4 linked regions of the Homo sapiens genome follow. The protein of the gene in region 1 interacts with the protein of each later gene in a pairwise test. Each region holds a gene or a part of one and is shown in the gene's direction. Other genes may lie near its edges. The genes, in order: VDR, MEOX2, RPS6KC1 and HMGN3.

Region 1 (7,975 bases):
CACCACGCCTGGCTAGTTTTGTATTTTTAGTAGTAGAGTTGGGGTTTCACCATCTTGGCCAGGCTGGTCTTGAACTACTGACCTCAGGTGATCTGCCAGCCTCAGCTTCCCAAAGTGCTGGGATTACAGGCATGAACCACCACGCCCGGCCAATATTCTTTTTTTTTTTTTTTTTAATTGAGGCAGAGTCTCGCTCTGTCGCCTAGGCTGGAGTGCAGTGGCATGATCTCGGCTCACTGCAAGCTCCGCCTCCCGGGTTCACGCCACTCTCCTGCCTCAGTCTCCCGAGTAGCTGGGATGACAGGCGCCCGCCACTACGCCCGGCTAATTTTTTTGTATTTTTAGTAGAGACAGGGTTTCACCGTGTTAGCCAGGATGGTCTTGATCTCCTGACCTCGTGATCCGCCTGTCTCGGCCTCCCAAAGTGCTGGGATTACAGGCATGAGCCACTGCCGGCCAATATTCTTAAAACAATAGAGTATTGACACATTTAATAGATGTGTTGGGAAATGGCTATATTTATGTATATTTGTATCTTCATTCTTCCCCAAAGTTCATTTGGTATATTGCCATAAAATACATAAACAATATGGTTGAGAAAGAGAAGTAAATCAATCTCAAGCAATGTTATTGTCTTTCAAGTAGCAGCAATAGCTGTATTTACGGCAGAAGGGGCAAAATGCTTCCTAGATACTAATGCTCAGATTCAGTGCTGGAATATGGGGAGCTGGAAAATGAGTTAACATTGCCGGCTCTGGATGGAAACAGATTATGAGGTGCCATATATTGGTGTATGGCCCTCTTAGCTGTGTAGAAAAGCCATGAGTTATTGCCGAAATTAATGCCTTGCCAGTGAGATGATGGTCATTCACAGAGCTAAACCCAGAACTTTCCAGTTTGTTTCTGCCCTGAGAAAACTGGCTCTGTGTTATTTTATGCCTCTCACCAACCCAAATAACAGAAATTTTTCGATGCTCTTCCCCTGGAATTAATGTGAAAATGGTGAAGAAGAGAAAACTGGCAGACAGTGCTGAGACACTCCTACTGCATTGCACATTTTGGTTGTAGTGATAGGAGCGAGGGCCCCTCTGGCAGGCAGGCAAGCAGGAGCAAGCGACAGATCTTGTGTGAGCCCGGCATTGCTCTGAGCCCAGGGTTTACCCTCAGAGGCTTTCTTTGGAACTGACAACACATTCCGTAGAGCACAAGTTCCAACTCCCTCCTCCACGCTTCACGTTACTGTTTGCAAACTCCACATATTCCAAAGTCTTGTTTTGTGTAAACAGCTAGGGAAAAAACACAGAAGCACTCGGCTTCCATCCTCATGTCAGGCAGCAGTCCTTGTCTACACAGGCTTCATCCTTCCCTGCTCTAGTGGGGAGTAGGACAGAGGGCCCCCACGGCCCTTTCCAGATACAGTGATTCCAGGTTCAGTGATTCCAATGGTGGCTGAGATTGCATACACGGGAAAGCTGCCCTAAAAAGAAAGTTACTCATTAAATCGGATTACTCCAATGCTGCCCCCTTCACTAAGGAACCCCAGCCTCCAATTTCTCCCATGCTCAAGGCCCCTATCCATTGCCCTCCCACATGTACCCTGACACAAATAGCACTACTCTCAGTTTCTCTTCCCGAGGTTAAGTTGAAGTCTGCCCTCTTCCTTTCATCATGTTCTCCTCTGTCCCCTAGTCTGTCCTTGCAACTCATGGCTAAAGTGAGGTACATATGGCAGGTACAGGAGCTGCCCAGCCATTGATGCAAAATGGGTTAAACTGATCCTGAACATGCTAGGGTTGGCTTCTCTGTCTTCAGTATGACTTGAGAAGTCCCAGAGCAGAAGGTATGCCAATGAAAATGGAGCAGGCCTTGCTAAGAGAGCTTGCAGGGACACTGGTATGGACGCTCTCTGTGACTGGACAGAGGTGATGCTGAGCCTGGACTGGAGCCCAAACCTAGGCTCCAACTGGGCCCAGGGTGGGCCAGCCCAGTAGCTCTCTGGTTCTGCTGCTTTCCACACTTAGGGGTTCTATTGTTCCAAGACATAGAAGAACAGTGGCTGCATCCCTGGTGGCTTTGATCTTGCTGCCTGCAGGCAGGGGCGGAGGGTGTGGGGAAGGCAGGATGAGACTTCTGTGTGGGTGTGTGGGGGCACAGGATGAGTCTCCAGTGGGGGCATGAGACCAACGTGGGGCAGGGCTGGATGGGCTGTTCTTGGTGTGAACTGTGCTACAGTGTGGCCTTGGCCTGCTCTCTCCTCCCATCTCTCCTCCCTTAGCCTCTCAGTCTCACCCCACAAATCTCCCTCCCTGCTGGCACTGCAAATGAAATGCATGGAGGAGGTGGCATCAGCAGCAGCATCTAAATGGCCAAGAGCAGCCTTAGATCTGAGGACTTGGGACCCCCAGGCTTCACTGACAAGTAAAGTACACAAGAGACCAGGCCACATAAGCTGCAGCCCTGCCCTCTTCTGCTAAATGCCTTCACCTTCATTGCCATTTCCATACCTAGGGAAGAGCCCTGGGGGTTATCATGCTTCCTTCGTGCTGTGCCCTTTCTCCACATTCATTTCTTCATCCATCCAACAAATAGCTTTCTTACATAAACTGTGAGGGACAAAAGTTGTTGAGAAGACAGTCCCTGGCATCCAGGGATTTGGTGTCTGATGAAAGAGATAGACATGTAAACAATTGCTGCAAGGAGATAAGAGCCCTGCTACAAGCCTGCTGGAGGTACCGTGGGAATGCGGGAGGGGAGGGGAGGGGCCGGGCTCTGCCTGTGGGGGTGGGAAAGACGAAACAGCAACACAATTCCAGTCACATCTCGGGTGCCCAGAAGCGGCTGCAGGCGTGAAGACAGAGGAGGGTGTAAATGTCACACAGGTGAGGGAGGGGGAACGGAGCTGTGCTGGTGCCTATCATCGTGGAACAAGCTCTCTTATGGCTTCCCCTGTAACTCCACCTCTACTCCCACCACGCCACCATCCCTGGTCCTGGCTGTGAGCTGTATTTAGAAAGGCCCTGTATTTCCAGGCTGTGGGCAGTCATTTGGGGTCGTTTTGGGTTTGTGTTCCTAGCAGCAGGATGTCTGGATCACAAAAGCAGTGATCCCACTAAAACCTCTCTGGCCTGCATCCATGGAAGATGTGTTCACTGCTGGCCATCTGTTTGAGTGGGGCACTGAACAAAAGGCTATGTATAAAGTTATTCCTCCCAGAATTACCTATGATAGCAAAAATTGGAAGCAATCAAAATGTTCAAAAATAGATAAATGGAAGACTGGCTCAATAACTTAGAGTATACTGTTATGATGTAACATCATGCAACCCTCTAAGAACTGGGCTAAATAATTTTGAGTGATATAGGAAGTAGGATAAAGAATTAGTATAAGCTCCAGTATGTTAAATGTATACTCCCTCTCTCTATGTATATTTGTGGGTATATATATATTTGCATAGAAAAAAGACAGGAAGGTGCCAGGCACGGTGGCTCACACCTATAATCCCAGAACTTTGGGAGGCCAAGGTGGGCAGGACTCACTTGAGGTCAGGATTCAAGAGCAGCCTGGCCAACATGGTGAAACCCCATATCTACTAAAAATAGAAAAATTAGCCAGGTGTGGTGGCACATGCCTGTAGTCCCAGCTTCTCCGCAGGCTGAGACAGGAGAATTGCCTGAACCCGGGAGGCAGAGGTTTCAGTGAGCCGAGATTGCACCACTGCACTCCAGCCTGGGTGACAGAGCAAGACTGTCTCAAAAAAAAAATTAAAATAAATAAATAAGAAAAAAAGATAGGAAGAAAATACGCCAAAATGTGAAGTGTGGTTATGAGCAAATTTAATTTGTTTTTACATTTTTATGTATTTTCCAAAGATTTGATAATGAGTATGTTTTACTTGTATAATGAGTCAAAACAAAAATGGGGATGGTGTTCATTTTTGTGTTTTAAATGTGGATTGAGCATCTAGAGAAAAGTGACAAGGATGGTGAGATGTTAGACATTGTGTCATTAGACTATCTGAAGGAGGACACGGCAGTTTTCCTTTTTAAAAAACTCCATTAGTTATGGTTCAAAGGAAGTCCCATGGCTAGTGGAGAAGTCTGGTTCTGGGTTTATTGAGCACAAAACTGTAAACCACAAATGAGTGTACTATCACGTGGATTGTAGCTCAATAGAAGAGGTCATTAATCTCGGCGCTAACAACCCCATGGCTGTGTCCAGAGGCCCTGAGCTCCCTGACCCTAGGAGAGTCCTGCAGAGGTTATGTAGGAGCCATCTCTAAGAGTTCCTAAGAGGGGCCCTCCAACTCTAGCACGTTGTGATTTTTTTTCAATACAGATCCTTTGCTGGCCATCCTGATCATGCAAGCCTTCTCATTTCCCACCATCTATCACCCATTGATACAACACTCTCATCAGTTAATATCAGCTTCCCATCTTTATATATAAACATGCAGCCATTGACGGGGTGACAGCCTATCTGCAGGATATCCAGGAGGAAGTAGACAGTCAGGAAGAGAAAGGGAGTAAAAGCCAGAAGCAAGCTGATTTGTGAGCCCTGCCTTTTCCTCGCCATTGTTCAGACAAGCCCATTCCTGACTCAGAATAGTGGAACTAGTCATTGGCCTCTCAAATCATCAACGCATCTCTATTGATCATCTTGTGCTGACGGCTCAATGGTCAGTGTGTGGGCAACAGTAAGGTGATTAAGAGGAGGTGCTGGCCCCCAAGTAACTTACAAACAAGAGTAGAAAACAAGTGGCCGGGTGCAGTGGCTCACGCCGTAATCCCAGCTCCTTGGGAGGCTGAGGCAGGCAGATTATCTGAGGTCAGGAGTTCGAGACCAGCCTGGCCAACATGGCGAAACCCCGTCTCTACTAAAAATACAAAAATTAGCTGAGTGTGGTGGCAGGTGCCTCTAATCCCAGCTACTCAGGAGGCTGAGGTAGGAGAATTGCTTGAACCTGGGAGGTGGAGGTTGCAGTGAGCCAAGATCTCACCACTGCACTCCAGCCTGGGCAACAGAGCAAGACTCTGTCTCAAAAAAAAAAAAAAAAAAAAAAAAAAAAAGGAGTAGAAAACAAGCATGTAAAGAGCAGAACTGGAGGAGACGGGCAAAATAAGAGCACCAGCAATGTTCAAGGCATCACAATGACATGGCCCTAACTGTGCTAAAGAGTCAGAAGGTGCGGGGCTCCAGTGGAAAACACAGTGGATTCAGGACCAGAAAAACAAAATGGAGAATTAGAAGGGTATTCCTGGCTGGAGCTGTAGTATGCTGAAAGGCGTGGTGATGGCTGGGTGCAGTGGCTCACACCTGTAACCCTGGTTCTTTGAGAGGCCAAGATGAGAGGATCACTTGAGGCCAGGAATTTGAGACCAGCCTGGGCCACATAGTGAGACACCATCCCTACAAAAAAAATTTAAAAATTAGCTAGGCGTACACCTGTAATCCCAGCACTTTGGGAAGCCTAGGCAGGCAGATCACAAGGTCAGGAGATCGAGACCATCCTGGCTAACACTGTGAAACCTCGTCTCTACTAAAAATACAAAAAAAAATTAGCTGGCCATGGTGGCGGGCACCTGTAGTCCCAGCTACTCGGGAGGCTGAGGCAGGAGAATGGCGTGAACCTGGGAGGCGAAGCTTGCAGTGAGCCGAGATCGCGCCACTGCACTCCAGCCTGGGCGACAAAGTGAGACTCCGTCTCAAAAAAAATTAGCTAGGCGTGATGGTGTGCACCTGTAGTCCCAGCTACTTAGGAGGCTGAGGCAGGAGGACTGCTTGAGCCCAGGAGTTTGAGGCTGCAGTAAGCCATAATCATTCTGTTGCACTCCAGCTTGTGTGACAGAACAGGACACTGTCTCTAAAAATACTAATAAAAGAAATTAGCTGAGCATGGTGGCGCATGCTTGTAGTCTTAGCTATTCGGAAGGCTGAGGTGGGAGACTCACTTGAGCCCAGGAGTTTGAGGCTGTAGCATGCTATGATCATAACACTGCACTCCAGCCTCAGCAACAGAGTGAGATCCTGTCACAAGAAAAAAAAAAGGCACAGTGAGAACACACAGCATCTGAATGTGGAGTGGCATGATGCTGCTAGAATGGAAGGTTGGTGGAGTTTACCATGGGAAAGGGAGTTGGAATGAGAGGTTGGAGCCAAGTTAGGGAGTGTGGGCCTGATCCTAGGGTGTTTGAGAGTCAGTGAAGATTTCTGAGTGCAAGAGGACATTGACCTGCAGCAGTGGTAAGAAAGATGAATGAGAGACTGGAGAGACACAAGTCTGGGATTCCTGTAAGAGGCTATTGGAAAAGACGCTGGAGCTCTGAACCAGGGCACTCCTGGTAGGAGTGGGAATAAGATCACGGGCTTGAGAGACATCCTAGAGACAGAGTTGGCTGAATTTACTACTGAGAAGGACTGGAGGACAGTAGGAGGGAGAGGAGGAGAAAACTTGGGTGTTGTTGAAGATACCATGGCCCTACCTTTTGCAGACCACCATATTCATGCCTCAATGCTGGGAACTTCCCTGGGCTCCGTTTCCTGTGCCCCATAGCTCTGGCTGCTTGGTCTCTGAGTTTTTCTTGTCTTAGTAACTGAGCTACTTCACTTCTGGCCTTGGCACATGATCACAGTGTTGAACTGTTCTCTCTCAAGGAACACTCTTGTCCCTTCCAGCCAGCCTGCAAGCTCCTCGATGAAAGACCCAGGGTGCATGTTGGTGCCCAGCAGGTGTATACCTGTCAAAGCACTAAACTGATTTGTGTGGCTTGAAGGCGTTTACTGGTAACCTGACCTCCTTCCCTCCCTCCCCTGCAGAGACCTCACCTCTGAGGACCAGATCGTACTGCTGAAGTCAAGTGCCATTGAGGTCATCATGTTGCGCTCCAATGAGTCCTTCACCATGGACGACATGTCCTGGACCTGTGGCAACCAAGACTACAAGTACCGCGTCAGTGACGTGACCAAAGGTATGCCTAGACTCCACCTCCTGGGGAGTCTTTTTCAGCTCCCAGATTCTGGCTCCACCCGTCCTGGGGTTTGGCTCCAATCAGATACATGGGAGGGAGTTAGGCACCAACAGGGAGAGAAGGGCGAGGGTCAGACCCATGGGGTTGGAGGTGGGTGGGCGGCTCCTCAGCTCTGCCCGCAGTACCTGGCCATTGTCTCTCACAGCCGGACACAGCCTGGAGCTGATTGAGCCCCTCATCAAGTTCCAGGTGGGACTGAAGAAGCTGAACTTGCATGAGGAGGAGCATGTCCTGCTCATGGCCATCTGCATCGTCTCCCCAGGTATGGGGCCAGGCAGGGAGGAGCTCAGGGACCTGGGGAGCGGGGAGTATGAAGGACAAAGACCTGCTGAGGGCCAGCTGGGCAACCTGAAGGGAGACGTAGCAAAAGGAGACACAGATAAGGAAATACCTACTTTGCTGGTTTGCAGAGCCCCTGTGGTGTGTGGACGCTGAGGTGCCCCTCACTGCCCTTAGCTCTGCCTTGCAGAGTGTGCAGGCGATTCGTAGGGGGGATTCTGAGGAACTAGATAAGCAGGGTTCCTGGGGCCACAGACAGGCCTGCGCATTCCCAATACTCAGGCTCTGCTCTTGCGTGAACTGGGCTCAACATTCCTGTTATTTGAGGTTTCTTGCGGGCAGGGTACAAAACTTTGGAGCCTGAGAGATGGTTCTGCCTATATAGTTTACCTGATTGATTTTGGAGGCAATGTGCAGTGACCCTTGACCTCTTCCGCTGGTTAGAGGTGAGAAGAGGGAGAAAAGGCCGAAGAGGAAGTTATTGTGACCTTGGGGACATGATGTCGGTGATGAGGTCCAAAGAGGGGCGGCCCTGCCTCAGCCTGTGCTAGTGGCCTGTGCCCAGGGATGCTTTCCTGGACTGGAGGCTCAAGGAATGGAGATGGGCTCCTCTACCCCTGCCCAGCCAGCCTTCTCTCATTCATTCATCCACTTAGCAACAATTTATTGAG
Region 2 (8,087 bases), on another chromosome or scaffold:
CTCAAAATGGAAAAGCCACTTTAAGAATAAAACTTGCTACAAATTGATGAAGTATGAAAAATAAAAACACACAAGAAAAACTTATCATAGTGCCAAAGTTACATTGGTTATGTTGAACTCTTCAAGTTGGAAAACTTAAAACAGAAGACTAAGGTTTTACTTATAATTCCTGTCTGTATTTTCGATTCAATTTTTCTTCTCTGAGGTTTGTGAACTTTTCTAAATTCAATTCATATAAAAGGATAGCCTTGCTTTTTAAGACATGGGAGAAATAAACGGTGTAGTTCCCTTAAATTGTGGATAGAAATGTAATGGTTATGAGTTGGATGCTATAGAAAATATAACATAATATAGAGCATTTCATTATAGAATTCTCTTGAATTAGTTTGCCTGTACCTCTCCCTGTTATGGAAAGGATATAATTTTCAATGACAAAATTTTGAAAAGGCCTACATTTATCAATAAAAATAACATACAACGTGAATGCAAATGAAAATGTAGAAATTAATTATTGTCTATTAGCATTATTATGAGTTAACTATCAAATAATTATGGATTTAAAACAGGTGAACAAAAGGAAGTCCAGATGGAAGTGTTTGAAATTTGAGAGGCAATCTATGTCTTCCCAATCATAAGACGCCTCACAAAATAAAAAAAGAAAAAGAAAGACAAGAGATCATTAGAATTTTATTAAGTGTGAATACATATTATGAAAGAATGCATATATTTTGAATTTTTAATTCAATCTTTTAGATTTAATTTTATTAGTCATAATCTATATTGCATGCTGGCTTTCTAAAGATCATCCGTTAAATAGTTCTAATTTTGATATATTTTGTTTCCTCTCTTATTGCTTTAGGCAGAGTTATATTTAGCGTTGAGAACAATTTCATTGATTATACTATACCGGAATTGAATGGAAGAAAAACACTAATTCCTGAAAGAAATAAATTTAAATGCAGGAAGACCTAGAAACTAGAAAAACAAAGTACGTTGGATTGTTTTACAGTTTAGAAGTAAGGTTTTAAGTATTCATTTCTTTTGGTACATGTAAAATGAATGTAACAATTTTTACTGTGAATGTACCAATTAATGTTATATAAAAATAATAACATTTTAAAAATGTGTAAAAGTATACAGAATCACTAAATAACATGCATTAGCCATAGCAAAATTGTTCCATAAACTTTATAATGCATAGTTCCTGGGGAGAATCAGTTCCTTAGTTTTATAAAATAATGTACATCATAAATCACATAAATTACCATTGGGTATTTAGCATATTTGGATACATTTTCAAAATTCTTTATTTCAGAAGAACCAACTGAAGGACATAACTGCTACTTTTTGGCAAAATATAGCAGAAATAATATTTCTATACCCAATAAAGTTTTCAGAAACAAATTACAACATTAATTTAATTATCCACCCTTTAGTTCATATATTATGAGTATATGTTACCAAGGAAAATTTATCTATTAGGTAAAATTCAAAGTAGAGTTTCCTATTTAATTTTAAATATTTGAAGTTCCATGACAACTCATGTCACACGTGTGCAGAAGAATGGCAACTTTTAAAAGAATCGTTGTGAATCTTAAAGTAAAATTTAAATACAATTTTGTTGTATTGCTTAATATGAGCTCTAGTCCCCTTAAAATAAAATAGTCCTAATAAAAAGAAATCTCTGCCTTTACTCTTGAATGTCATTTTATTTAAGCCGAGGAAACAATAGATATACACACTTATCAAGTTTAAAGAACCTAGCCTACGTTTAAAATAATTATAGCTGTGGACCCTGCAAGAGCTAAGTAGCTTACCTTTTCACAGAATCAACCTCTTTATAATGTGTTACTTGATATTGAAACCTTACATGAAATGTTGGCATTAATATAACTTATCTTCAGGAAAACTCAAGTATATTATAAATGTAGGATAAATACTATATCATACATAGTTGTAAATGATTGTTATATAGAAATTTTATAATAAATTTTATAATTTTTACCATTCTTCTTGATATCATTAGGTAAAAAGGCATCTTTTCAATATTGGATTTTATGGATGTGAACACTGAAGTAGCTATTATAGGAAATGCTAGGGATTTTTTTCCCGTTGTTACTACATTTTAAAAATTTCTCTATAACCTAGAACATAAAATTCAATATTCTATCTTATTCCAAATATTCTAATAAAATTTAAAAATCTTTATGTAATGATTAATACATATTTAGAAATCCAGAGAAAATTAAAGTTATATTTAATTCTGGAATTCACCAAGACGTCCTTTTTAGTCCTTCATTTTTTCCTTCCAAATATTTTCCTTATATTCTGTTTTCTATAAGAAAACTGGACATCATAATTTTTGCTGATATTAAATGTTCTGTGTCTTCAATTAAAAAGACCTTTCTTGCTAGCTTTGTTTTCATTGCATGCCTTTGGAATGACTTCCTCCTTTTCTAACCTTTCTTAAATTTTTCTTCCCAGGTTTCTGGCCCCACAGTTCTAGAGGCTGACTGACTGGGGCAGGTTGTAGAGAAACTTCTGGACAGGTTGTTAACATCTGACACAGTGAGTGAGAAAAAATCCAGCACAGTCACTGGGCAGGTTTAAGAAGAAGTGGCAGCCTCGGGAGATGAAAGGTTTGTGTGTGCTTGTTGCTGGTTACCTGCAACACACTGGTTAAATTCAAATCCATTCATTTAGTAATTGCTTAGCTTCCTCTAAACCAATGTAATGCAAACCAAAAGGACCGTTGTGGATGTTTTGTACTGATGTCTGCAGATCATGAGTAATTTTAGTCTGTCTTGTCTGACATTTTCCACAATGCTTTTAGTTGACAGCATTATATTATGTAAATATTTCTGGTTAGGTTTATTGAGGTGGTTGCCTAAATCTCACTTTAAATAAAGCCTTTAATGCTTTCACCCAGAATCCATAGAGAAGCTACATGAGTTGGGGAAGTTTAGTGTTGCTCTTTGTACTTTAACTTTTAATATCAGAGCACATATTGAAACCATAAACACAATGAAAATACAAAAAAATATTCCGACGATATTGGAGGACTATAACTCCCCCACCTCTTTTTATTCTTAAAGAGCCAAGGGCGTGGGGAGTGGCAGGAAGAGATATTCTCAAGATCTAAGTCCTGGACGCCATCCTGCGAGTGCTTAAAGCCCCTAGAAACGTGCAACCTGAACAACACCCCTTTTCGAAGTCTAAAACAATATTAGATTCCCAAAATATCGGCAAAGAAAGTCTTACCGTCAGACTTGCAGCAGGTTTCAGCTCAGACCCAGACTGAAAAGCTGAGCAGCTGGTGAACAAAAGATTTAGTTTTTTTTTTTTTTTAAACGAAGTCTGCAAAACTAATTTCCCTCAAAATAGAGCTCAATTTCCGTTAAAGAAAGCAGCGCTTACAAATCTCAGAATTCCTGATCAACCCCCACTCCACCCCACCTCTGAGCAATAGAAAACAATTCGATCTTTCACACGGATGTTATTGCGAAGCCACTATTCTGCAGTGTGACTTAAAAGAAAAGAAGATAGTGAGGCTTAAGCAAGGGGACTGGAAGAGGAGGGGAAAGGTTCTGCTTTGGGGACACCTCTCAAAGATTAATCAATGCTTTTTCCTAATTCAAACCAGATGTCTAGCCCAGTTTGCTGTACCCATTAATCCCACTAACAACTTCAAAGACCTGGTCATCATCCTCTGGACACCTGAGACAATGAAAAAACGGGGCGACACTGCTGGTGGCGCATTTGGGGCCCCGGGCAGAATAGGTGACTACAGATATTCTCCTGATGCGACAGGTCGCAGATGGGACATGACTGTTCCTCCTGCTCATTACAGCGCCACTCACTTGTGTGTAAACGACTCTGCCCCCAGCGGACCCTGTCGCCCGCCAAGCAAGTAGCAGCTTCAAAGCCCTGCCCTCGCTCTCGCATGCTTACTAGAGGCGAGTTTTCTATTTTATTTTCAGGGGTGCAAAATTGTAACCAAGTGCCCACGGTGAGTGAATTTTGGGAGCTATCGAAATGTAAGAATTCTCAGTAAATGGAACCCTGGTGGTAAGGAATGCATTAGCGGATTTATTTTTGAGCAGAAGAGAGTGGATTTCTGGAGGAAACCGAGGAGATCTGGGCTAGCTCCTGAGGGGAAAGGCTAGAAATGCGCGTGCAATCTACACATCTCATATGACCGGGACACAATCGCTTGGAAATATTCTTGACCCAGGAAAAGTTCTTCTTGGTGGACAAGTGGCTAGGAAATTGAGCGGGACCGGGAAAGAGGGGGAAGGGAGCCTCCACCTGGCATCGCACGTGAGGATGCCAGGGAGCAGGCATCTGCAACCCTTTCAGACTCACGCCTTCCTCCCACCCACCCAACCAGGTCCGTCTTCTTTCTGCACTGAGAACCGCCTTTTCCAGGCCATGGTGCTCATCCCCGCAACCTCAGATCTGGCGTCCCAGCCTATTAACAACCCACCGACAGAAACCAGCTGCGAAAACCTAGGCGCGCTGCGGCGCCCGGGGCACGGGAAGATGCAAAGTTTGAAAAACTTCGAGGGTGCGCCAAACTAGCTCTGGTCTTTTCCTTTAACCCTATTACTTCTTTCGTGTTCCTGAAAGGATAGGCGTATCCCTAGCTTTTCTGCAGGTGACAGTTCCCAAATGACACTGACAAGTCACGTTTCCCCGAGAGGAAAGTGAGTAGGTAGGAATCAGGGTGCTAGGTTGGGGGTGGTGTGCGCCGCGCCCAGGCCTCCAGAGTCTGGAGGGCAGAGCTGCTGCCCTCCCGGGCGGGACTTAGACGTTGGCGTGCCGCTTGTAGTCCTGGCAGCCGGCAGTGCTGGGCGGGCGTGGACGCTCTACGTCCGTCCAGCAGGAGATAGGAAGTGGAACTGGGAGCGCGTGGCGCAGGCTGAGCGGGAGTTTTGGAGGGAGTTTGCATGTGGTCAACTCTGGGCTCCTAAGCCAGCCCCCAGCTCACGTTACACTCTATTTATAACTTCTCAGAGCCATTTCCCCCTGAAAGCAGTTCTCTGGGACCACCTTCTTTTGGCTTCAACCTCTCCCACTCTTGACATCTGAGTAGCTCAGGGAAGCTCTTCCAGGTCCGACTGTTCATATGTAAAGGAGACTGGCCGCTGGGGCTCAGGACCGGGATTATCCGAGCTCTGCAGAAGTGCACCGCTATTGCTTTGGGAGGTTAAAAAAAAAATCACACGGTTTCCAGTGAAAAAGTGACAGAGGGTGGTGGCCTTTGGAACCGCCGTGAAGTCTTCTGCCTGGAACCCGAAACTTGCATGCTATGGAACACCCGCTCTTTGGCTGCCTGCGCAGCCCTCACGCCACGGCGCAAGGCTTGCACCCGTTCTCCCAATCCTCTCTCGCCCTCCATGGAAGATCTGACCATATGTCTTACCCCGAGCTCTCTACTTCTTCCTCATCTTGCATAATCGCGGGATACCCCAACGAAGAGGGCATGTTTGCCAGCCAGCATCACAGGGGGCACCACCACCACCACCACCACCACCACCATCACCACCATCAGCAGCAGCAGCACCAGGCTCTGCAAACCAACTGGCACCTCCCGCAGATGTCTTCCCCACCGAGTGCGGCTCGGCACAGCCTCTGCCTCCAGCCCGACTCTGGAGGGCCCCCAGAGTTGGGGAGCAGCCCGCCCGTCCTGTGCTCCAACTCTTCCAGCTTGGGCTCCAGCACCCCGACTGGGGCCGCGTGCGCGCCGGGGGACTACGGCCGCCAGGCACTGTCACCTGCGGAGGCGGAGAAGCGAAGCGGCGGCAAGAGGAAAAGCGACAGCTCAGGTAAGGGCGCGCCAGGCACCCTCGAGAGTGCGCGCCGGGCTGGAAAAGGGGCGGAGAGATACTAGGGGAGATTCTCGCACTGGAGGGTGGCAGCAGGGAAGATGGGAATGTGTTGCCCTCTGTGGCTTCCTGCGGCCAAATTCGGCGGTGAAGCTTTGGTCCTGATATTTGGGGACACGTGTTTATTCGAGAGCAATGCGTATACAGCCAGCAGCTCTAAGCCCTCCAAAGTCCTAAACTAGTTTACCAGAAGGTTGATAAAAAAGGACAAGTGGCTGTGAAATCGATTGTGAAGCGTGACCTTCCATCCCAGCGCTGGGGAGGGAGGGGCGTGCGCCCAGGGATGCAGCGTCCGTTGGGCAGGCGTGCGTGCGGGTGCCGCTTCTTGACTTTTCTCTTGCAAGTTGCCGACTCTGAGTGGCTCGATTTTTCCCATCGTTAACTGGATTTCCAAATTATTGCACAATGTTTGGAACTTGCAATGGAACTTGGCAGAGCGCATGAGAAAAAAAAGTTTCAGTTTTTTTTTTTTAACATTCTTATTTCAGCGTTCTTTAAATAGCACCCTATTTCAAATGGTAAAATTTTCCCTTTATTGGGGAAGAAGACATTATCTAGGAATTCAGATTTTAAGGAATGTGTCAGAGAATTGTAAATAAATAGATGCTCACACTGGAAGAAAGACGAACCTTAATAGTACATGTCCATGTGGTGTAAGCTAATTACAGAACCTAAGTTTCAAAAGTGGAAAATAAATCCCTCTACCAAGTGGGTATTAGTAGAGACAAATACTGCGAAGCAACAGCAACTCGGGTACTGTTAGTTAGATACGTGTCTAAAGGGGTATGCAAGGGTGCGCGCAGGAGGCGCTGATTTCAGTGGGGATAATTTGAGCAGCCATGCAAAAGGGGAACCTTCCTGACCTCTGGTGCTTGAAGGCACAACGTGCCGAATAAATTGTAGCAATCCAGAGAAACTCAAAGTTTCCAGACAAGTTTTCAAAGCTCTTACCTACCTGTATTTTTATAAAATTGTTAAAAGATACTTTAAAATTAAGAGACTTGTGAGTTTTCTTTCGTGGGTATAGTGCAACCTGGATTAAATACTTTTGGAAGGTGTCATTTGTTTAATATAATATTTGCATATTTTTCTTCCTCTGTGGAATTGGGTTAATAATAGTCCTAGAAGGTAATCCCATATGTTGGTTTGAAGGATTGGAAAAATGTTGATCGTGTGTAAAGCTTTAGGTAAGATGCCACATAAATGAAAATGATTGGCCGCATATTTAATATTCCTTCACCATTCACAGCAATATCAATTGTTCTTCAGCGTTACTATAGGATGGATTCTTCTCTCACGGTCTCAAAAGCTAACTTTTATTTTCCAAGGTCAGGGGGTGAACTTTTAATGTTCCATCACAAATTAGTTTTTATAAGAAAATTACCAGTAGTGTCACTGATATTTAATGTATTTTCCTAACTATAAGTGAAACTCTCTTTAGATAGTGAGTTGAAAGGTTAATCATAGCAAAAAGGTTTCAATTTTTATTAGAAAAACAGTCGATTTTAGAATGCAGTGACAATTTCATAAACTGAACATTTGATATCAGTGTAACTTTGGAAGCAGATCCCAGTTCGGGTTGATGAGCGTACTCTTGCAATTCCCATAAGCTCTTACGGTTCATTTTATTTCTTGCAATGAGAAACCTACATGATAGATTGTTCTTCATGCTTCCTGAACTGAGCCATTGCCCTTAAGTTTCTCAGGGCAAACAATTTTCATACAAGCACATGTTATTTTGTTTGGGGAAAACTGAGAAAACGGAATTCAATAACTGATTCCCTTAATTTATTTTAATAATTTTTTTAAAAAATGGAATAATTTAACAAAACTAATTTATCTCTCCCCCCCAACTTAGTGGGAAATAACCATTTAACAAAATTAAATTCATTTCTACATTTTGAAGCTGATAATGAGGGTACTGGAAAAACAAGCAAATATAAGTGTTTGTGTCAGCTACATAAATTATTAACAGATTAAAACTTCAGTGGAAAGTACAATTAGTCATCACCAAGGATAAAAATACTGGGGATTTAGAATGAGCTTTTCTTTCCTTTGATATGTTGAAGAAATATTGACTAAAAGGAAAATCACAATAGTTTCTGTTTAAATCTATGTACACTTATTGAAAATAAAATTTTATTTGCCAATTTCAGCTGAAGGTATATTTGTCAGATATTGAGATAGATTTAAATTAAA
Region 3 (7,975 bases), on another chromosome or scaffold:
ACTAAATACTGAGGGACATAAGGCTGAATAAAGCAGGGATCTTTATTCCTTTCAAGGATACTCATAGTAGAAGAGAGTTTAGTATACTTAAGTGTGATATAACACAGGAAGTTCCAGCAGACACTACAGAAAAGGGCTGTGGGAAGACAGATTGCTTCTGGATCAAGAGATTGGGGAATATGTACCAATCAAGATAGTTGAAAGAGGGGAAGAATCCAGAAAAGGAGAGGGTATGAAAAGGTAGACAGTTGAAGGGGTAGAGTCCATAAAGACCTGGAGGTATGAATGTGTGTGGAACTGGAATTGGAAGCACTGAGTATAATTATTTGTATTGTTACTTTACAAAAGGAAAGGTTAACCAAATTCAGAATTTTTTTTTTTTTTTTCCAAGGCGTAGTCTCGCTCTCTTGCCCAGGCTGGAGTGCAGTGGCGCTATCTCAGCTTACAGTAACCTCGCCTCCTGGGTTCAAGTGATTCTCCTGTCTCAGCCACTCAAGTAGCTGGGATTACAGGCGCCCTCCACCATACCCGGCTAATTTGTCTATTTTTTGTAGAGACGAGGTTTCGCCTTGTTGTCCAGTCTGGTCTCGAACTCCTGACCTCAGGTGATCCACCCACCTCAGCCTCCCAAAGTGCTGGGATTACAGGCGTGAGCCACCGCATTGGCCAAATTCAGATCTTAAATATCTGAAGCTGTGACCTATTTACTGAGCTAAGTTTTGACAATATAAACTAGAAGATAAAGTAGCACATTGCCTTAGAACTAACCACATTTATATATATGCATGTTACATATTGCTCTGGTTATTTGAACTTGAAAATTGCACAGACTGCCTTTTTTCTTCCCGTAAATATTTATGTCTTCATTTATTGCTTATGTTACAGATTTTGTTTTTAAAATGTAAGGTCTGAGAGTCAACGTGGAGACATACTTTTAAAATAACTGTGCTTAGTATTATAAAATATTTCTTGAGAGTTAAGGAGAAAAACACCTTTTTTCAGGATAATTAACCAGGTAAATAGTGCTCTCCTGAGAGAACTTCATGAGATAAAAATTAAGAATGTCTTCTGTATATTTTCTACTACTGATTTACTTCTAGCTTCAAGGAACAATTTTCTATATTTTTGATCCTTGCAGGGTTATTTCTGTAGGAGTAGAGTTTTAATCATTGGAAGTACCAATGTTAAATTTTGGATAGCAAAAGAGCTTTTTCATCTTCTTAAATCTCCTTTGTGCTTTTTTGCAGTTCTCTGAAATCTGGCAAGGTTAGATGATTTTGAGGCCAGTTGCAAGCATACTAACAGATTCTGCAGTTAAACTCAGTGTTATTTCTTAATTTTTATGTAGAATAAGTACCTCTATTCAGAATTGGAAAATTCTTTCATAAGTTCCCTTTGATTCTTTAGTTGAAGGAGACACAAGTGTAAGAGAACCATCAGCAGTGTTTTCAGTTATTTCATCATGCTAAGTTTACAAAATTCTCATATTGTAGTATAGATTTCTCAGCAACAGTAGGTGAATGGCAGTTCTTGCCTGTATTCTTTCCATGAGTATAAAAGGTATGTTTTTATTCTCAAAAGACAGTGCTGTATTATAACTTATTTAATTTACATTGAGTCATAATTTATATACAGTAAAATTCACCCATTGTAAGTGTCCAATTTGATGAGTTTTGACAAATGTATACAGTTGTGTAACTACCCATGTTCATCACTGCACAAGTTCCCTCATGTTCCTTTGCAGTCAGTCACTCCCCCTCATTCCCTATCTCTAGGCAACCACTGGTTTGCTTTCTGTCACTATAGATTGGGTTGTATTTTCTAGAATTTTGTATACAAGGAATCATATAGTATGCACTTTTTTTTTTTGGTCTGGCTTCTTCCACTCAGTATGATTATTTGAGATTTATCCATGTTGTCATGTGTTTCATTCCCTTTTATTGCTGACTCATATTCCATTGTATGGTTATACTGCATTTTATCTGTATATACTGCATTTTATCTGATGGATATTTGGGTTGTTTCCAGTTTTTGGACATTATGAATACAGCTATTATGAACATTCATATACAAGTCTTTGTATGGACATATGGTTTTATTTCTCATGATACCACATGGCTTTGTTTATGTAGCTTTATACTAAGTTTTGAAATCAGGTAGTCTAAGTACTCTTTCTTTCTCAAAATTGTTCTGGCTATTCTAGATTGTTTGCATTTGTGTATAAAATTTAGAATCAGCTTGTCTGGTTTCTACAAAAATGCCTGTCCAGATTTTGATTGGGATTATATTGAGAATGTAGATGAATTTCAGAAGAATTGATATCTTAATAATATTGTCTCTGATCCATGAACATAATATATCTCCTCATTTATTTAGCTCTTCAGTATGAGCAGTGCTTTGTAATTCTCAGGATACAGTCTTGCACATGTTTATTTTTATTTATTGATCTTTTTCAGAGATGGGGGTTTCACTGCATCACCCAGGCTCGAGTGCAGTGACGCAATCATAGCTTACTGCAGGTTGAACTCTTGGGTTCAAGTGTTACTCCCTCCTCAGCCTATTGCCTGGGATTGTGGGCACAAGCTACCTCATTGGCTTTGCACCTATTTAAAGTAGTTTGGGTTTATTTTGAAACCAGGAGAATGTATAAATCCTAGTTTTATTATACGTAGCTAGTGTTTGTTGAGTAATAACAGCAAACACTTACATGGTGCTTACTGAGTCAAGCAGTTTATATTAAATTAACACATTTGTCACAGGGGCCCGGTGAGTAGGTACCATTATCATTTCCACATTTTCAATGAGGAAATTGAGGCACAGAGACGTTTAGTAACTTGTCCAGGGTCATATAGCCAGCAAGTGGTAGAGTCTACATTTGAACCCAGGTAGACTGGTCCCAATCACAGTGCTTTTAATCCCAATGCTATGCTGCTGAATACCTGTATTATAAAACATTTTTCATTAGGTGCTGTGAGTGTGCATATGGGGACACCTATGTGTCCCCACAAGGGCATTACTATAGTTTGGCAAAAGTGATGGATACGTGAATAATAAGTAACTGTGATGATGTGAACAAAGGGGAGTGAGGGAATTAATGGGAAGTACTGAGCTTCACTTAAGTCTGAAAAATTACCATTTCCAAAGCTTCAAATCGAAGCACTATTTATATTGCTTGGAGGGAACCTGTCCTCATTTCCTGACCATATTCTTAAGCAGCCTGCTTGTGCCTGGGAATGGAATTATTTGTAGTTTCCAAATTAGGTTAGAACACTACATTCTTCCATATCTCTCTGTTAGATGCTATTTTCTCTGTCTGGAATACTCTTTCCTTTTGTCTTGGCAATCTCTGCTCATCTCAGGTGTCAGCTATACCCTGTGTTCCGGGAAGCTTTTTTTTTTTTTTTTAGGCGTTGCTCTCTATATGTCTTGTATCTCCTCCGTTATCATAATGTACTTGTTTGACACCTCTTCTGATGGCAGACTCTATTCTTTTTTGAGAGTCTCACTCTGTCACCCAGGCTGGAGTGTAGTGGAACGATCACGGCTCACTCTAGCCTTGACTTTGCAGGCTCAAGCAATCCTCCCACCTCAGCCTCCCTAGTAGCTGGAACTACGGGAACATGCCACCCTGCCTGACTAATTTTTGTATTTTTTTTAAGAGACGGGGTTTCACCATGTTGCCCAGGCTGATCTTGAACTCCTGAGCTCAAGTGATCCACCCATCTCAGCCTCCCAAAGTGCTGGGATTACAGGCGTGAGCCACCATGCCCGGCTGACTCTGTCTTTTTAACTGTATATTCTTGGTGCCTAGCACAGAGCTTGGACTATAGTAGGGATTTCAGGGTAGGCTGGAAGGAGGCAGCGCTTTGCTTTTCAAGTATTGATTTTTAAATTAACATACAATGAAATTGACTTATTCTTTTGTATAATTCTTTGAATCTTAACATGAGTATAAATTCATTTATCTACCACCATAATCAAGAAACAGAAGTTTCATCATCCTAAAAAAACTCCACCCTTCCCCCTACTCCTTATACCCTGGCAAGCAGCGATCTATCTATACTACTATACTTTTGTCTTTTTGAGAATGTCATATAAATAGAATCATATAGTATTTAGCCTTTTAGACTGATAATTTGCCTATTTTTTTCTTTGGGTTGTTTGTTTCTTACTCCTGAGTTTTGAGAGTTCTTTATGTTCTGGGTATCTTTTTTTTGGGGTTTGATATGACATTTGTAAATATTTTCTCCTGATCTAGAGCATATCTTTTAATTCTCTGAAGTATCTTTTTTTTTTTTTTTTTTTTTTTTCCTTTGAGACAGAGTCTCCCTCTGTTGTCCAGGCTGGAGTGCAGTGGCGTGATCATGGCTCACTGTAGCCTTGACCTCCTGAGCTCAAGCAATTCTCCCACCTCTCAGCCTCCTGAGTGGCTGGGACTACAGGAATGTGCCACTGTGCCCAGCTAATTTTTGTATTTTTTAAATAGAGACCCAGTTTCACCATGTTGTCCAGGCTGGTCTCAAACTCCTGGTCTCAAGCAATCTGCCTGTCTTGGCCTTCCAAAGTGCTGGGATTACAGACGTGCGCCTGACCTTTTTTTTTTTTTTTTTTTTTTTTTTAGAGATGGGGTCTTGCTGTGTTGCCAGGGCTGGAATGCAGTGCTTATTCGCAGGTGTGATCATAGTGTGCTACAGCCTCGACCTCCTAGGCTGAAGTGATACCCACCTCAGCCTTCCAAGTAGCTAGGACTACAGGTATGCCACTGCACCCAGACAGTGTTTTTGCAAAGCACAATTTGTAATTTTGGTGAAGTCCAGTTTATCAGTTCTTTATTTTATGAACCATGCTTTTAGTGTCATACCTAAAATCTCTGCCTAACCTCAGGTTACAAATATTTTTCCCAATGTTTTCTTCTAGATAACTTATTTCTTTGCATTTTATATTTTGCTCTATGATCCATTTTGAGGTTTTTTTTTTTGTTTTTTGTTTTTTTATAAGGTGTAAGGTTTGGGTGAAGGTTCTGTTTTTGCCTCTGGTTGTCCCATTGCAACAAAACACCATTTGTTCAAGAGACTAACCTTTCTTCGTTGAATTGCCTTTATTCCTTTGCCAAAAGTCAATTGACTATATATGTGTAAAGCTGTTTCTGGATTCTCTTATTTTGTTCCATACCATACAATCTTGATTATTATAGCTTTATACTATATCTTAAAATTAGGCAATATTGTTTCTCCAATTTTATTCTTTTTCAAAATTATTTTGACTACCCTAGTTCCTTTGCTTTTTCATATATATTTTAGAATCAGTTTATCTATAGCTACAAAAAATCCTTTTGGGATTTGATTAGGAGTGCATTAAATCTGTAGATCACTTTAGGGAAAAATGGACATCTTTTCTATGTTGAATCTTCAAATCTATGAACACAGTATGTCTTGCAGTTTATTTGTGTTCTCTGATCTCTTCTATCAGCATTTTGTGGTTTTGAGCAAATTGCTTCTCTGTATATTTTGTTAGATTTATTCCCCACTATTTCGTATTTTTGTAGCTATTGTCAATAGTATTTTTAAAAATCTTGGTTTTCAGCTTTTCTTTGCTAATATATAGAAATTTGGTTCATTTTTGTGTTGTCTTTATATCACGTGACTTTTTTTAAATTATACTTTAAGTTTTAGGGTACATGTGCACAACGTGCAGGTTAGTTACATATGTATACATGTGCCATGTTGGTGTATCATGTGACCTTTCAAACTGACTTATTAGTTCTAAGACTTTTTAGTAGAATTCTTGGTTTTTTCCTGCATAGACAATCTGTGTTGTCTGCCAAAAGGCATAGTTTTATTTATTCTTTCCAAAATGTATGTCTTTTATTTCTTTTTCTTGCTTTATTACACTGGCTATGACTTGTAGTCCACAGTCTTGAATAGGAGTGGTGAGAGTAGACTTCCTTGCCTTGTTCTTGATGTTAGGAGGAAAGCATTCAGTCTTTTATCCTCTAGTATAATTTTCACGGTAGAGTTTTTGTGTATGGGAGGCTGCATGTTTTATTTATTTATATATATATATTTTGAGACAGAGTCTCACTTGTCATCCAGGCTGGAATGCAGTGGTGCGATCTCAGCTCACTGCAGCCTCCGCCTTCCGGGTTCAAGTGATTCTCCTGCCTCAGCCTCCCGAGTAGCTGGGATTACAGGCATGTGCTACCACACCGGCTAATTTTTTTTTTTTGAGACGCATCTCGCTCTGTTGCCCAGGCTGGAGTGCAATGGCGTGATCTTGGCTCACTGCAACCTCTGCCTCCCGGGTTCAAGCAATTCTCTTGCCTCAGCCTCCTGAGTAGGTGAGACTACAGGCACCCGCCACCGTGCCCAGCTAATTTTTATGTGTTTAATAGAGATGGGGTTTCATCATGTTGACCAGGATGGTCTCCATCTATTGACCTCGTGATCTGCCTGCCTCGGCCTCCCAAAGTGCTGGGATTACAGGCGTGAGCCACTGCGCCTGGCCACACCCGGCTGATTTTTTTGTATTTTTAGTTGAGACGGGGTTTTGCCATGTTGGCCAGGCTGGTCTCTAACTCCTGGCCTCAGGTGATCCGCCCACCTCAGCCTCCCAAAGTGCTGGGATTGCCGGTGTGAACCACCGCGTCCAGCTGCATGTTTTACTTTTTAGTTTTGTTAGCTTTTAAATTTTGAAGTAATATGTAGTCATACACATTTCAAGCAATAATTTGAGTCACTTTAAAGGAAAAAAGAAAGAACCTACTAAATTTTAAATCCTTAACCTGTTAGGATTATTAACAAATGTCTGATATTAAGGCAGTGGGAGTTGTTAGATTTCAGTTGTTAAATCAGTAGCTTCTTGAAGATTTCTTGAATAAATACTTAGTTTTGGCTTAATCTGGAGATATTTTCAACAAACAAAATAATCATAGGGATAGGGAGGGCAATTAGTTTGTTGTAAAATATATTTATGCTTAAAATTTTTGAAAAATGGCTCTCAAGGTGTCTTGTGTTTTCTAGAGTCTAGTTTTATTCTACTGTTCCTTTGTTTTTAACTTGTAATATTGTTTAGTAGAAAACTTTCTAATATACCAAAAATTTCAGTAAATGGAACTTAAAAAATGTAAACCATTCCTGATTTCATCTTGTTTGTTGACAACTTGTCTCAGATATTAAGATTTTATATTAAACTGCAGACTTTCTTTAACATTAAGGATTTTGATTTTCCTTGAACCTTGATTGGAAAATAGTTTAGAATACTGCTATAATTGGTAAAATTTGAGGTGAGAAAAATAACTTTAGCAAACATATACTGAGTATCTAGAGATAACTTGCAGTTTTAGCTTCTTTACTCTCCCTGAGATTTTGGGATTTTAATAATCTAGAAAGCCACAACTCCTTACTGTCTTTGTCAGTTTGGATTTTTATAACAAGATATTATAGACTAGATGGCTTCAACAATAGACATTTCTTTCCCACAGTTCTGAAGGCTGCAGGCTGGGAAGTCCAAGACCAAGAGGCCAGCAGATTTAATACCTGATGAGGGCCCGCTTCCTGATTTGCATACAGCTGCCTTCTTGCTGTATGGTCTCATGGCTGAGAGAGATCATTGTCTTTTTCTTGTAAGCGCAGTAATCCCATCATGAAGTTCCCACCCTCATGACCTGATTACCTCTGGAAGGCCTCACATCCACATCCATCACATTGGGGATGAGAGTTTCAACATGAAATTCAATATGAATTTTAGGAGAAACACAAACATTCAGTCTGTAGTACTTTTGACATAATGCTTTCGTGAAAACTTGTTAGAAAGTTGAATGTCTAAAATTTGTCCCATTGACTTATCTATCTTATATGGGAGTTCTTTCACTCCAGAGAACTAAAAATTATAAAATGTCTAATTATGGTTTGTGCAGGTGTTGCCTCTTGGGTCCAGACTGCCTGGCTGGTGGGTGATAACCAGCCCAAATATTCTT
Region 4 (7,975 bases), on another chromosome or scaffold:
TTTAGGTACTGGCTGGTTTAGACAGCTTAGGCATTTTTTTTTTTTTTTTTTTTTTGCATTAATTTCCGAGGCTTTTTATTTTGGAACTCCTGTACTGGACCTGAATTTTTAAAAGGTATTAAGTCCTTTGGATCAGAACAGCTGTTAGTCCCAGTAGAGCAGTGCTTAGATTGGAATGTCTCTGGAAATCCCAAAGAGCTCTCTGGCATCACTTAGTCTATTTGGTATGTTCAGGTCTTCACATGGAGAGGAACAACATTGTCGCAGCTGGGGAACTTTTCACATGATTTTGCCTCACTTCATGGAGATTTTATTCAAGACAACTAGATGGCAGATAGGGAGGCAGTTTTGAGTAATGGCTAACATGTTTGGACCCTTTTCAGGCCCCAAACTAAAGAGTAACTGAGTAGTGGCTCTAGGACTTCTTCCCCTCCCTACAAGTTCACAGTTGCTGTATGTTTCTGGTGCTTACCCCTTCTGTTCATCTCAACACTTATTGAGGGCCCCTGCTACATATTGGAGCCATAGAAATATAAGAGAAGGTGGTCCTGTGCAAGGAGGTATGGAGACGTGTCAGATGAGGTGAACGTGAGGCAAGACCAGCATGGTGCACATGAGTTGACATCAAGTGGAGAGAGAGTCAGATAAGGCTCTTTCACCTCTCTTTAGCATGGAGACTGTCACTTTCATCTTGGAAGGTATTGTTCTGCCTGCTGTAGTTTATGAGACATGGATAGTCCTTGAGGCCACACTGAAGCTTCAAAGCTGAGCTCTGTTGGGTAATTGGAAGGTGCTCTTTGCTCCTCTATGCTCAGAAAGTACATTAAAAAAACACAAGATACCTCTTATTGCCCGGTTTACTTGAAAATGTTGCCTTCAGTATACTTAATACGGTTAACCATGCTGGGAAAGGTATTGCAGGATTTGGATTCTGGTTCCCAGGGACTTATGGGTGCACTGTCAAGAATGCACCCTTGATAACCATAGCAGGCACTATGGTTCCTATGGAGAATCTGACACACACTCCTCCTGTACTAATTCACAGGGCTATGTGCTGAGTTGTACAAGCTTTTACTCTGTGCAGTGAGTGTATCCCACCCAATCACTTAACCTGCACAGCCTTTCATTCTCAGCACATTCTCCTAGCTGGCCTTAAGTCCAGCTCTGATCTTTCTTCGAGACTCCAGGGTTAAAAGTATTCATGGAGGCTCTGGCCCTTCGTTTCCTTCTGTAGTTTAAAGAAAGATGAGTTTAGCTTCTCTGGCTATTTTCAGCAAGAAAGTTCTTAGATGTGGAGATGGCAAGAAATATTTCTTCCAGTTTGGCCTGACTGGCTGACCTAGACTGACCTTAGCCCCACTTCAAGAATTCCATGATTCCTCATAATTATGGCATGGATTCCTACTGACCATTTTTGCTGTCCCCCTTAGGAAGAATTATTTGAAACATTTAAGCTATTGTAATGAGGCAAAGTCTGCATAAGGCAGTGAGAATTAGGGAAAGGCTTGGATTCATTTATTCAGCAAATACTGAGTTTGTACTATATGTTGGCCAGTACCCTACTGTACTGGAGATGGAGCAGTGAATAAAACAGACAAAAAGTATGGAGTATTTATTTCTAGGGCACTTTTTTTAAAAAGGCAGTTATGCTTTTAGAATGTGAAATCCCTTGGGGAGCCACCGTAGGTTGGATGGTAAGTAGAATATCAATTTTGTGTGTTATTGCTGAAATGCCTAGGACAGTTCTGTTAATTTAGATTTTCTTTTCAGGGTCATTTGCTGTTAACTTGTAATATCCTTGAAGAAAAAAAGATTTCCCCAAAATATCAATTTCTACACAGTTTCTCTGTAAATTTTCTAAACTTTGAAATTAAAAGAAAAAGTAATGCACTTTTAATTCTGGTTAAATCCTTTGAACATATACTACTAGATAAATGTGTTTGTTTTGTTATAGGTAAAAAGAAGCCTTTCTTGTTAACTGCCAAGATTTGTAGTCATTTTCATTTCTAACATAGCAGCAAGATGGGGAACTCCTGCTATTTTGGTTTCTACACAATTGCATAAGTCTCTTCTTGTATTAACTTAAAAGCTTTAGTTCCATTTTTAAGGAGCTGGAGTCAGACTGAAGACTAGCTCTTAAATAGCACCTCAATGTTCTTGCTGTTGATTTTGTCATAAAAGTAGAGGTTTTAATTTGGGATAAAGCCTAAGTTGATCTTCATTTCCCTTACTTATTCACCACACCCTTAGTTGGGAGAAGCCGTTTATTTGAACAGTATACCTACCCCTTTTTAGAAACACTTCCTCTTGAGTGTCATCGTGCCCAGGGGACTTGGGATATGTTTCACTGTGCTTACCTGGAGAAGGTGATGGGAATCATACATTATAGTCATTCAACAAAGTAAGGTATATTAAGAATAGATTTTTAAAAATCAACTTCGTTTTATATAATCACCAAAAAATATGTATATTTTCCCATTCCCTTTGTAGCCCACAAGACGGTCTGCCAGATTGTCAGCGGTAAGTACCTTAGAACCACTTCAGTGTTAGTTCTTATGAGTACATGTTCCCTTTGTCCAAAGTGAAGCAGCAAAAGGAAGATTAACATGGTTTCCCATGAGCTTATTTTCTTTTTGAAAATTACCTAGGGTCCTCATGTCTAGCAAATTTGACCAGTGTTGCCAAGCAATTCACTTGATCAAATGTGTCAGAAAAACAGTGGCCAGCCCCATAACGAAGAATATAAAGCAGGATGTTGTTTGACATTGCTAGATCTCTGAAACAAAAGTAGTATATTAGGCAAAGTTCCAGTCTTCAGATTGTACCTATGATGTGCTGAAGTGGACAGAATTCTGATTCTCTGTCCACAACTCATACTTTAGAATGTATGTATGAGAATGTTCTGAAAGTTGTCTGAGTCCATATACTGTAGCCTCATTTCAGACCTAAAGAATCTTTGTAATAGTAATAATTCTACTTTGCTATTTGGTGTCTCCTTCTGTGGGCCAGGAGATTCTTGTGGGGTTAGGATACAAGCTGAGATGGGCAGATGTGGCTGAGCCTCTGAGGTGGACATCCTTCAGCTCTTCCTCACCAACCTGTGCTCCTTACTGGTTCTTATGCTCTTCTCTTTTGCTGCTCTCCTGAGAGATTAGCTGGACTCTAGTGGAGGATTTTGGTTAAAATTCCTGCAGCCCAGACTTCCCACTGAGAAGGTAGAGGGAAAGGCATTGGCATTTTGGCTGACACTATATTAGTATATCCCCATACTAGCTATTACAGAAGCTTCATGCTACTTTGGTCTTCAGGAAAGCATGGATTTCATTCTCAACCCAAATCTGTGCCTGATACAATATAAGGAATCAAAGCAAAAATGGGTATTAGGACCACTCACAAGTTCAGAAATACAGCTGTTTGGATCAGGCAAGCCAGTGTTTCACGTGAGTCTCGTAAGGAAGTATATTAGTCTGTTTTCACACTCACTGCTGATAAAGACATACTCAAGACTGGGCATTTTACAAAAGAAGGAGGTTTAATTGGACTTATAGTTCCATGTGGCTGGGGAAGCCTCACAATCATGGTGGAAGACGAGGAGCAAGTCACATCTTATGTGGATGGCAGCAGGCAGAGAGAGAGCTTCTGCAGGGAAACTCCCATTTTTAAAACCATCAGATCTCACCAGACTCATTCACTTTCACAAGAACAGCACAGGAAAGACCCGCCCCATAATTCAATCACATCCCACCAGGTTCCTCCCATGACACATGGGAACTGTGGGAGTTATAATTCAAGATGACATTTGGGTGGGGACATAGCCAAACCATATCATTCTGCCCCCAGCCCCGCCCAAATCTCATGTCCTCACATTTCAAAACCAATCATGCCTTCCCAACAGTCCCCCAAATCTTAATTCATTTCAGCATTAACTCAAAAGTCCAAAGTCTCATCTGAGATAAGGCAATTCCCTTCCACTTGTGAGCCTGTAAAATCAAAAGCAAGTTAGTTACTTCTTGGGTAAAATGGGGATACAGATATTGGGTAAATACATCCATTCCAAATGGGAGAAATTGGCCAAAACATAGGGGCTACAGGCCTCATGCAAGTCCGAAATCCAGCAGAGCAGTCAAATCTTAAAGCTCCAAAATGATCTTTGACTCCTTTTCTTGCATCCAGGTCACGCTGATGCAGGACGTGGGTTTCCATGGTCTTGGGTAACTCCGCCCCTGTGGCTTTTCAGGATACAGCTTCCCTCCTGGCTGCTTTCACAGGCTGGCATTGAATGGCTGCAGCTTTTCCAGGCACACGGTGCAAACTGACAGTGAATCTACCATTCTGGGGTCTGGAGGGCAGTGGCCCTCTTCTCACAGCTCCACTAGGCAGTTCCCCAGTAGGGACTCTGTGTGAGGGCTTCAACCCCACATTGCCCTTCTGCACTGCCCTAGCAGAGGTTATCCATGAGGACCCTGCCTCTGCAACAACGTCTGCCTGGGCATCCAGTTGTTTCCATACGTCTTCTGAAATCTACGCAGAGGTTCCCAAACCTCATTTCTTCACTTCTGCACACTCGCAGGCTCAACACCACATGGAAGCTGCCAAAGCTTGGGGCTTCCACACACTGAAGCAATAGCCCCTGTACCTTAGCCCCTTTTAGTCACAGCTGGAGCGGCTGGGAGACAGGGCACCAAGTCCCTAGACTGCACAGAGCAGAGGGACCCTGGGTCAGGCCCACGAAGCCATTTTTTCCTCCTAAACTCTGGGCCTGTAATGGGAGAGGCTGCTGCAAAGGTCTGTCACGTGCCCTGGAGACATTTTTCCCATTGTCTTGTGCATAACATTTGGCTCCTCATTACTCATGCAAATTTCTGCAGCCGGATTGAATTTCTCCTCAGCTCAGAAAATGGGATTTTCTTTTCTTTCGCATTGCCAGGCTGCAAATTTTCTAAACTTTTCTGCTCTGTTTCCCTTTTAAAACTGATTGCCTTTAACAGCACCCAAGTCACCTCTTGAATGCTTTTCTGCTTTGAAATTTTTTCCACCAGATACCCTAAATCATCTCTCTCAAATTCAAAGTTCCACAAATCTCTAGACCAGGGGCAAAATGTTGCCAGTCTCTTTGCTAAAACGTAACAAGAGTCACCTTTGCTCCAGTTCTTAACAAGTTCCTCATCTCTATCTGAGACCACCTCTGCCTGGATTTCATTGTCAATATCATTATAAGCATTTTAGTTAAAGCCATTCAACAAATCTTTAGGAAAGGTCACAGTCATTCAGCAAGTCTCTAGGAAGTTCCAAACTTTCCCACATTTTCTTGTCTTCTTCTGAGCGCTCCAAACTGTTCCAACCTCTGTCTGTTACCCAGTTCTAAAGTCACTTCCACATTTTCATTATCTTTCAGCAGTGCCCCACTCTTCTGGTACCAATTTACTGTATTAGTCCATTTTCACGCTGCTGATAAAGACATACCCAAGACTGGACAATTTACAAAAGAAAAAGGTTTAATTGGACTTACAGTTCCATGTGGCTGGGGAAGGCTCACAATCATGGAGAAAGACAAAAGGAGCAAATTATGTCTTACGTGGATGGTGGCAGGCAAAGAGAGAGAGCGCTTGTGCGGGGAAACTCCTGTTATTAAAACCATCAGATCTCATGAGACTCATTCACTAATCATGAGAACAGTGCAGGAAAGACCCACCCCCATAATTCAATCACCTCCCACTGGGTTCCTCACATGACACATGGGAGTTGTAGGAGTTACAATTCAAGATGAGATTTGAGTGGGGACACAGCTAAACCATATTAGGAAGAGGTGTCAGTCACTAGGAGGACTTAAGAGCTGGGGTTGCTGTTGTGAATCTCCAGGCAGTTAAGGGAACAGACCTTGTAAGTCAAATGAAAACCAAAGTTTAAAACAAAGCTTTTCCTGAGCACCAGAAACCAGCAATATAAGCACCTTCCACTGAGATCATTCCCTGTGCTACCGAAACAGAGCCTCCTCAGAGGCCAGCAGGATTACAGACTACAAAACCTCATTTCCTGGTCCTATCAAAACACTTGAATGCTGGGTCAGAGGGAAAGGTCTGTCCTACAGAAAATAATATAAAAGGAAATTGTTTACTGTAAATGGAGAAAACATGTATATTAATACAGTATATCAAAGCTTAGGATGACAAAATGTTTTAAATTCTGAAAATGTAAGAGCCATGAAAGCTGCTGTATTTGGCCTGCAGATTTAGGGTGATAAGAAGATTAATAAAAACATTTCTTAACTTTTCAAGCTCGATTTTCTTTTTTTATTTGAAAGGTCATTTCTAACAGCCAATCTTCTGAAATCAAACTGTCTACAATTTCACTTTATGCCCTTGATGAAAAGGGGCAGATTCAGTGTGAACGTGAATTACCTAGAGGCACTAGGGAGGAACATGTATTTTTCTCCATAGGGGGAGACCCTGGCCAGTGTTTTCTATTTTAAAACCATTCTTCTAGTGCCAGGAGAGATGTACACTTTTTTCTAGTTCTATGAGAGAAATATTTGCCCTAAAATATCCACAGAAAACTCCTGGTGTAAAATGGTTATCTTTCCCCAGTTATCCGCATGTGCCACCTGGTCTCAGGCCCCTGGGAAGCTGGCCAGGGCTGAAGCATTGTGTGGCAGAGGGTCCATGGTCACACGGTGTGCAGGTGCTGCTCATGGGAACTGGAGGAGGACCACATGAGGCAAGAGAAAAATAGTTTCCTAGGGGACTGTTTGGCTAATAATATCTGTGAAAAATTTAAACTTTGGGAGCTAACAGTAGACATTTTATCATTATAATGATGTTCTCAATAAAAACCTTTAGACACAAATGAGCCCAGCATATCTGGTTAGACAAGAGATTCTCACCTTGAGCTGGCATTGGGGAGAATAAAAGTAGGAAGAAGCTTGGCAACAGAACTCGAAATCTACATTAGAAGTGGAAGGATTTGGAAGTGATTTTGAAATACTTCACAGGCAGCAGTCTTCATTACCAGTTGGGCTTTGCTAGTGATTGTGCTGTGATTTCTAGACTGTTAGGAAGGCCAGTGCAACTGAATTCATTGAGTCCTTTGGCCATGGGCCTGAGTCATTCCTCTTGCTGCTGTGCTGTGATAAAAGGAAGAGCAGACACATTGGAGATAGAAGCTTAGACCTGTTCCCGGAGAGCTATTCTGGACCAGGGAATAAGGAGTCGGCTTTTCAATCTCACCTGCAGTTCCCTTGTGAACCCAGGGTGAAAATAGTTATGAAATGCAGAGATCTTTATGCTGTTACCTGGTGCTGAAAATAGGATGAAATACTTTTTAATGACCAAAGCCATGTCAAAATGGATAGTTGTCTTTGTTAGTCCTTTTGTGTTTCTTTTGGTGCTGATAGTTTTTTTTTTTTTTCAGTATTTGTGTAATTTAAATTATCTTTGCAGAAACCTGCTCCACCAAAACCTGAACCCAAACCAAGAAAAACATCTGCTAAGGTAAGAAGTGCTGTTTCCCACTTTTGGCTTTTTAAACAATGAATAAATTATAATTCCCTACCTCAGAATCATTCAAAGAAAGGCCGTATTTAATGATCCAAACTGAAACCATTACCACTGTTACGGGCTTGCTTAAAGGCATAAAGCACAGTTTTCTGCGTTAATAGGAGTGTGTTTTCCATTTGGTCAGTGAGGCACGGGAAGTCAGAGATGTTGCTCTGAGAAGCCTCATGTCCGAAGGGGGTTTGGCAGCAGCCTCGTGAACATGCGGTTCATGCGGCACACAGCGGGGATGAGTTTGGGCCCTGGCAGCACTGCCCCACTATGGGAGGAATTTGGGAAGGGGCTTCTGACTTCATCTAACTGGATTTCGCAGGCCAGTCTGAGGTCTAATAATAATAATATAATAATGCCAGCAGGTAATATTGGCATTTATAAGGCCCTTATAGTATGGCAGATAAGGTTGATTGCTTTACTCATATGACCTT

Evidence for each region.
Region 2: the proteins of VDR (region 1) and MEOX2 interact in binary tests that used the Homo sapiens proteins (3 or more experiments, as listed by UniProt).
Region 3: the proteins of VDR (region 1) and RPS6KC1 interact in binary tests that used the Homo sapiens proteins (3 or more experiments, as listed by UniProt).
Region 4: the proteins of VDR (region 1) and HMGN3 interact in a two-hybrid assay, tested with the Homo sapiens proteins (one study listed by BioGRID).

Annotation. Positions count from the first base shown.
Region 1 is NC_000012.12:47,845,647-47,853,621, reverse strand, and holds part of VDR (vitamin D3 receptor), read left to right. Parts: intron 1-6,813; coding exon 6,814-6,965; intron 6,966-7,170; coding exon 7,171-7,287; intron 7,288-7,975.
Region 2 is NC_000007.14:15,683,627-15,691,713, reverse strand, and holds the start of MEOX2 (homeobox protein MOX-2), read left to right. Parts: upstream 1-5,030; 5' UTR 5,031-5,311; coding exon 5,312-5,828; intron 5,829-8,087. UniProt on the Homo sapiens protein: Mesodermal transcription factor that plays a key role in somitogenesis and somitogenesis and limb muscle differentiation. Required during limb development for normal appendicular muscle formation and for the normal regulation of myogenic genes.
Region 3 is NC_000001.11:213,053,467-213,061,441, forward strand, and holds part of RPS6KC1 (ribosomal protein S6 kinase delta-1), read left to right. Parts: intron 1-4,291; exon of another isoform or gene 4,292-7,902; coding exon of another isoform or gene 7,903-7,975. UniProt on the Homo sapiens protein: May be involved in transmitting sphingosine-1 phosphate (SPP)-mediated signaling into the cell. Plays a role in the recruitment of PRDX3 to early endosomes.
Region 4 is NC_000006.12:79,203,092-79,211,066, reverse strand, and holds part of HMGN3 (high mobility group nucleosome-binding domain-containing protein 3), read left to right. Parts: intron 1-2,490; coding exon 2,491-2,520; intron 2,521-7,436; coding exon 7,437-7,487; intron 7,488-7,975. UniProt on the Homo sapiens protein: Binds to nucleosomes, regulating chromatin structure and consequently, chromatin-dependent processes such as transcription, DNA replication and DNA repair.